Homo sapiens: one gene and its partner. The protein of the gene in region 2 purifies or fractionates together with the protein of the main gene of each other region. This does not show direct contact. Each region holds a gene or a part of one and is shown on either strand. Other genes may lie near its edges. The genes, in order: SLC35F2 and PCDH9.

The links.
Region 1: the proteins of PCDH9 (region 2) and SLC35F2 purify together in Homo sapiens (affinity purification with mass spectrometry; one large-scale study listed by BioGRID and IntAct). This does not show direct contact.

What each region holds. Positions count from the first base shown.
Region 1 is NC_000011.10:107,848,650-107,852,470, forward strand, and holds part of SLC35F2 (solute carrier family 35 member F2), read right to left. Parts: intron 1-3,821.
Region 2 is NC_000013.11:67,223,835-67,227,655, forward strand, and holds part of PCDH9 (protocadherin-9 isoform 1 precursor), read right to left. Parts: coding exon 1,571-3,821; coding exon of another isoform or gene 1,508-1,570; exon of another isoform or gene 1,354-1,507; coding exon of another isoform or gene 1,330-1,353; exon of another isoform or gene 1-1,329.

The DNA of each region.
Region 1 (3,821 bases), on a different chromosome or scaffold from region 2:
AGACTGTGAGAAATAAGTGTCTTTGGCTTGGAAGTTATCCAGTGTACAGTATTATTGTTATTAATCTGGCATAAAAGCCCAACTATAAAACGATCAATAGCAGCACACCCTGGTGGGTGCCAGAGGCCAGCCCAGAAGCCCACCAGCTCCTATCCCCTACTTGTTTCCCATGGTGAACCCTAAGGAACCTCCAGGGAACCCCAAGAGCTCCTCCGGTTTGCAAACCACTAGGGTAGGTGATGGGAAGAATCCCAAAAGGTTTTCAGCCTGAGCATAATGCAGTGAGATTTCTTTCTTTTTTTCTTTTAATTTTTTTGAGTAAACTAGTCATATCACATGAGATTTTTGAAAGAGTAAAGCAGCTCTGGATTTTAGAAACAAATGAAACTATCTCAGCTCTGCCTCTCACCAGCCAAGTGTCCTGGGTAAGTTACTTACCTGCTCTGTCTGTCAAAACAGAATAAAAAACCTATTTTTGTAGGATTGTCATGAGGATTGATGAAATATAAGTAGGGTGCCTGATACACAGCGAATTCTCATTTGATGACAGCCATTAATACTCTTTCGTTTTATTAGGCATCACTCTGACTTCTGTGTAGCGAGATGATTGGGGTCGGGGATAGATGGAGGCATGGATGGAAGCTATTACAACAGTCTAAGTGAGAGATGATAAAGGCTTGAACTGAATTAGTCACAATAGGGATTGAGGCCAGGTGCGGTGGCTCACGTCTGTAATCCCAGCACTTTGGGAGGCCGAGGTGGGCAGATCACCTGAAGTCAGGAGTTTGAGACCAGCCTGGCCAACATGGTGAAACCCCGTCTCTACTAAAAATGCAAAAACTAGCCAGGCTTGGTGGCAGGCACCTGTAATTCCAGCTACTCAGGAGGCTGAGGCAGGAGAATCGCTTGAACCTGGGAGGCGAAAGTTGCAGTGAGCTGAGATTGCGCCACTGCACTCCAGCCTGGGCGACAGAGCAAGACTCCGTTTTGGGAAAAAAAAAAAAAAAAAAAGACAATAGGGATTGAAGGGGGAGGTGGACTCTAGGACTATTCTGGAAGCGCTGTCAAGACAGGGAATAAGCACTGACTTCCTTCAAGTCAACCAGAAGAAAGAAGCAAACAAAAGAAGGAATAACCCAAAGGTTGTCTAGAACTGGTCTAGGGGAAGAAGGAGACTACAGCCTGGGGCAGAAAGAGGAACCAGAGGCCCAGTGGAGGGCATGCTGGAGAAAAGCTTTTCAATTCCAGTCTTACCTCTCCCTACAGTACATGTCTGCCCCTTTAACAACTCCCTCCAGTGTTGAGAAATTAATAAAACAGGTTCAGGCTGTCCAGCCAGCAATCATTCCTCACCTACCCTCTCCAAGCTCCTTGGGCTAATGGGCTGTAACCTAGAGAGACTGCCTCCTCCTTCTTTCAGAGCAGCTGATAGGAATAGCTTAATGGACAGTCACTGAACAACAGAAATCAAGGGTGATTCTGTAGTGCCCAAGATTGCTCCATCCTGGGGTGCATCCCCTCCCCTCTACCTAGAGGGACTCAGACCCAAGCCTGGCTATCATCTCGTTCTTCAGCACATAGGGGACATGTATGAGAGTGGTCATCACAGTGATGTTTGTGGAGGCTGGGAGTTGGAAGCTGTCTGGTTGTCTAACACTGGTGGATGGACCACGGAACCACAGAATACTCTGTAGCAGGTAAAAACAATAGACTAAATCAGTGGTTCTCAATTAGGGATGATTTTTGTCCCCGAGAAGACATTTGGCAATGTCTGGAGACACTTTTGAATATCACAACTGGGAGTGGGGGTGAGGGTGCTATACTGGCATTTATTGGGTGGGGCCAGGTATCTACATCTTACAGAACAGCCCCAACAAATAGTCAACTCAAGGCCGGGCACGGTGGCTCACTTCTATAAGCCCAGCACATTGGGAGGCCGAGGCAGGTGGATCACTTGAGGCCAGGAGTTCGAGACCAGCCTGGCCAACATGGTGAAATCCCATCTCTACTAAAGATACAAAAATTAGCCGAACGTGGTGGCAGGTGCCTGTAATCCCAGCTACTCGGGAGGCTGAGGCAAGAGATTCGTTTGAACCAAGAGGGGGAGGCTGCAGTGACCCAAAATCATGCCACTGCACTCCAGCCTGGAATGAGACTCCGTCTCCAAAAAAAAAAAAAAGAATTAGTCAACTCAAAATGTCAAGAAGGCTGAGGTTGATTGGGCACAGTGTCTCACACCTGTAATCCCAGCACTTTGGGAGGTTGAGATGGGTGGATCACCTGAGGTTGGGAATTCGCGACTAGCCTGGCCAACATGGTGAAACCCTGTCTTTAGCTGGGCGCGGTGGCTCACGCCTGTAATCCCAGCACTTTGGGAGGCTAAGGTGGGCGGATCACAAGGTCAGGAGTTCGAGACCAGCCTGGCCAATATGGTGAAACCCCATCTCTACTATAAATACAAAAATTAGCCGGGAGTGGTGGCACGTGCCTGTAGTCCCAGCTACTCAGGAGGCTGAAGCAGGAGAATCTCTTGAACCCGGGAGGCGGAGGTTGCAGTGAGCTGAGATCGCACCACTGTACTCTAGCCGGGGCAACAGAGTGAGATGCTGTCTCAAAAAAAAAAAAAGAAAGAAAGAAACCCTGTCTTTACTAAAAATACAAAAATTAGCCAGGCATGGTGGCAGGCGCCTATAATCCCAGCTACTTGGGAGGCTGAGGCTAGAGAATGGCTTGAACCCCGGAGACGGAGGTTGCAGTGACTGGAGATTGCGCCATTCCACTCCAGCCTGGGTGACAAGAGAGAAACTCCGTCTCAAAAAAAATAAAAATAAAAATAAATTAAAAAAAAAAAAGGCTGAGGTTGAGAAACACACTAGATGAAAAAAACAACATGACTGGGTCACAAACATATAATGCAGAGTGGAAATTTTTTCTAAAAAAAAGGGATGTAATCCTTTATACAATGCCTATTGGAATTAAGGATTCATTCTCAGCCATGCATCCCATATTTTTTGTGAATCTATTGCAAGGTCAGTAATGTAACAATCAGAATATACAATGGCCATAACTAGATATGATTCCTGACTCCTGGAGTCTAGTAGAATGGGCAGATAGTAAATAATTTCATAGTAAAAAGGGGGAAGGGAGAAGAATTTATGGAGACTCGTAGAATCCAGAGTTCCCCAATTCCCCAGGGAACTGCACAAGCCACAAAAGATCCCTAACTTTACATCTTTGTTTAAATAACACTATAAACAATACCCTTCAGCAGGGATACATACCAGCTTGGGATTTATGCTGCATACACAGTGAGAGCTCAATAGATGTCTGTTGATTGGATAAAGTCTGCACAGTTAAGCACAACTAAATGACTCCTTCAAAAATGTCTAGGACTTTACCCTGTGGAAGGCGGAAACCAAAATGAAAGGAGAAAGCACAGGTGTATCCCAGACCTGTTGCTAGACAATAACAAGGAGTGTGGGTGTTGGCCAGGCGTGGTGGCTCAGGCCTGTAATCCCAGCACTTTGGGAGGCCAAGGGAGGTGGATCACTTGAGGCCAGGAGTTCAAGACCAGCTCAGCCAACATGGTGAAACCTCATCTCTGCTAAAAACACAATATTGGCTGGGCACAGTGGCTCACGCCTGTAATCCCAACACTTTGGGAGGCCGAGGCAGGCGAATCACGAGGTGAGGAGTTTGAGATCAGCCTGGCCAACATGGTGAAACCCCGTCTCTACTAAAAATACAAAAAATTAGCTGGGTGTGGTGACAGGCACCTGTAGTCCCAGCTACTCGGGAGGCTGAGGCAGGAGAATCACTTG
Region 2 (3,821 bases):
CGCTCTACTGTTTAATATTTTACTTTAAGAATGGAGATTTTAGTTGTATGGTAATATGTATTATACTTGATGTTCTGGGAGTATCTGTATGACTCATTGTCAAAATTACTCTTATAAATATTTTATTACCATGAAGCCTTAAGTCCTTCCAGAGCAATAAATGATAGTTGGTAAGGGGGAAACTGTTTCAATAAAACATCCTACTTCACCCCACCCTCAGAAAATAAAAACTCTTGATTCTCCAAAGACTAATCAATGATAACTGTTGATACTGTTCTGCAAACTAATTTTGCTTTACTTGATTTTCTAAAATCTATGTGTTCCTTATTTATAAACAAGTACAGATGGGCCATCACCATAGGTGAACTCCATATCGACAAAGACAGAACTAGCATTACGAAATCCTAGAAAGTTGGTGTGCTGAGAGCTAATCACAAAAGAGCAAGCGAATGAACTTAAATGCTAGTTGCTCCAGAGCAACTATCATTAAATAAAAGGTATCTTTGGCTGTACTACCAGCTTGATCCTTCCCTCCCCCTTCTCCTTGCTACTGCGGGATTGGCACCTGGCCAGCACAAGCGACATGATACCCTAGTGCCATCTACAGGCTATTATCGATATTCAAATTTTGTGGCAACAGACAAGCACCAGTGAAATAAATTAGACAGCGCTGCATTTAAATCTTTATTAACAAGGAATTATTAGACCTAAGAAAAACTAATTCTGGATTTGGTTGAAATATGAGTTTCTCAGCCTCTTAATCCCTCTTCATATGGCATATTTCACAGTTTAAAATGAGTTATGACAGATCACTTATGCATTACTAAGATGAGAGAATATTTACAATGGATTCATTCTTTTCTTTTTAAATCAGTTATATTAGGCAGCAAGCATTCTTTTTTTTTTTTTTTTTGAAAGAGTATTTGGCCACTGCGGACACTAAAAATCTTTCTATTAAGTACCGAATTTAATATATTACAATAAAATAATTTGAAATCAAAGAGAAGACTTCCTATATGGCTTAGTTGCAATCTATCAACGATCATGTGCTTCACAGCTGATGTACATTTAATATTCTACTATCCTGTTTAGAGACTAAAAAAAAAATTAACCCCTTTAGCAACCATAGCTGCAACATAATTGCAGTCACACCTTCAAAAGTCATTGAAAACTTGAGATTTGAAGGTGACTTTTTAGATCAAAAGGTAAGGTGAAAGTCTTGAAGCAGTCAATTTGGAAACCCCCAGGAGCAGAATTTGGCATATCAGGACAGGTTTTTTCTTCTTCAGCAAACATTATCTTGGGACATTTTGGAATAATTTTCTCTTTTCATCTTTTGCCATTTGAAGGAAACTGAAAGGAGAAAATATTCTCAGAACTCAGAAATTTCAAAGCTGTTCTAAAAATTCTTGACTGAGCCCCAGAGGAATAGAAAAGGGGTCAAGTTTTTTTTTACCTCTTTCTAACTAAGCTAAAGTTAGACCAAAACAATAGACATACTGGCACGTTAATACTGGTTGACTGGGCACTTGTATGCAGTACTTATAGACCAGTAAAAGTGCTCGTTTACCTGTCTGGTGTGTAAGGGGCCCTTTGTCTTGAAGCCTCCTTGGGAACTGCACTCTGAGGCACTGAAGTGATCTGAACTAGTGGAAGAGCGTTTAGAAAGGGTGTCACAACCCCCAACAAAGGTGTTGTCCAAAGGGAGTTCCTGAATCACGTGGTGCTTTTTCACGGAAACTGGAGTGTCTGGTTTGAGATGAAAAGCAGGCTGTGGAGAAGCAGATTTGTAGTGCTTGGCCAGGTCAGGACTGTTAGGCTTGAATGTTGTTGGAGGTGCCGGGCCCCAGTCAAATCTTCCTATACTTTGCTCCTCCAGTTCAGCCGGCAGGCTTATTGTCCCATTGATAGGTTCATGAACTGCATCATCGGGTTTGGACTCTTCGATAGTAACAAAGTTCAAAAGAGAGCTTTTGGGAGACTTCCTTTTCTTTCTTTTCTTTTTCTTGTTTTGCTTGTTCTCCTGGTTTGGGGACATCCATTCGGCACCTTGCTTGCTCCTCTGAGCTGCTTTGAACCTTGATGCATGGCGACAGCGCACCAGAACGGTGACGAAGATCACAACAATGACCACCATGGCACCGGCGATGATGGCAATCATGATGGTTAGATAGTCCTCATTTTGATAGGGTTGGCTACTATCCCCTATGTTCCTGTCCAACGGGGTCTCCATAGTCCTGCGGATCAAGTCATAGATATAGGAGGCATTTCCAGCAGTGTCGTTAACATAAAGGAATACAAGCACAAGCGTGTGCAAAGACTTAGGGTACCCCAGGTCACTTATGTTGACCACCAAACGATGCAATCCCACATCAGTAGGTGCTGGTTTTTCTTCCAGAGTAATGTTACCTGTTACTGGATCAATCCGGAATAAGCCTTTATTGTTTCCACTCACTATAGTATACTTTAGTTCAGCGTTCATTCCAGTGTCAACATCCACTGCAAAAACTTCTGCTACCACGGAGCCAGGAATGGCTGAGAGGGGCACCAACTTAAAGGAAGTATTAGACGGTGGAGAAATGACAACTGGGCTGTTGTCATTGACATCCATGACGTTGATAGTTACTTTTGCAGTAGAGGAACGAGGTGGTTGTCCTCCATCAGTGGCTTTGACATCAAAAGTGTAGGAACTCTGCTGCTCTCTATCAAATGAGACATTTGACTTTATGACTCCAGAATAGGGATCCAACACAAAATTATCATTGTCATTTAGAATGGAAAGAGTCACAGCTTTATTCTCTCCAGCATCTGCATCTGTCACTGTGATTACCCCCACAGTACTATACTTTGGCAGATTCTCAGACACAAAAAATTGAAAATGATTATGAGTAAACTTGGGGCTATTGTCATTCTCATCCAGAACAGTAACAATCACAGCCGCTTGGCTTTGGAGGGGAGGGGTCCCATTGTCCCTGGCAGTTACTGTAAAAATGAATCGTTCTTGTTCTTCTCTGTCAAATACTCTGGAGGCTGTCAAAACTCCTGTTTTTCGGTCCAGATCAAAGAAGGAGGCATTCGGTCCAAGCTGATAAACAATGTCTGCATTTTTCCCACTGTCTTCATCTGTGGCACTAATAGTTGTTAAGTATAACCCACGTCGGTTGTTTTCAGAAACTGACAGCTCAATTACAGGCTGGTTGAAAATTGGTGGGTTGTCATTTTCATCCTCAAGCTTAACCCTTACCAGGGCAGTCTGATTTAAACTGGGCTTCCCAGAATCAGAGGCAACAATTTTAAAGCTGAATTCTTTGGTGCCCTCATAGTCCAACAAAGAAGAGGTCTCTAACAAATATTGGTTGTCATATACCGCCTTCAAATGAAATGGGACCTCTCTTTCAATAAAACAGATCACTTTGCCATTCACATCTGTGTCCTTATCTGAAACTGTAATTAGGGCAATCTTTGTATTGACAGGATCTTTCTCAGATAAATACACGGTGCCATTGATGGGACTTATAATGTACCTGAGGTCTATATTAGGAGGGTTATCATTTACATCGGTGACATTGATGGTAACCGTTGCTCGAGCAGGAGTGGAGCTGCCGTCACTAGCCAGCACTGTCACTTTGTGAATGGCTGTCTCCTCTCTATCTAAGGACCTCTGAACTGTAATCAGCCCAGTAGTATTATTTAAAGCAAAGAGTCTTTTGGTTGCAGGGGCGACCTGGGCACCAAAAATGTACCGGATTTCAGCATTACTGCCTATATCTGCATCAGTGGCATGGAGCTGAATTACAGAGGTACCTACGGGAGCATTCTCT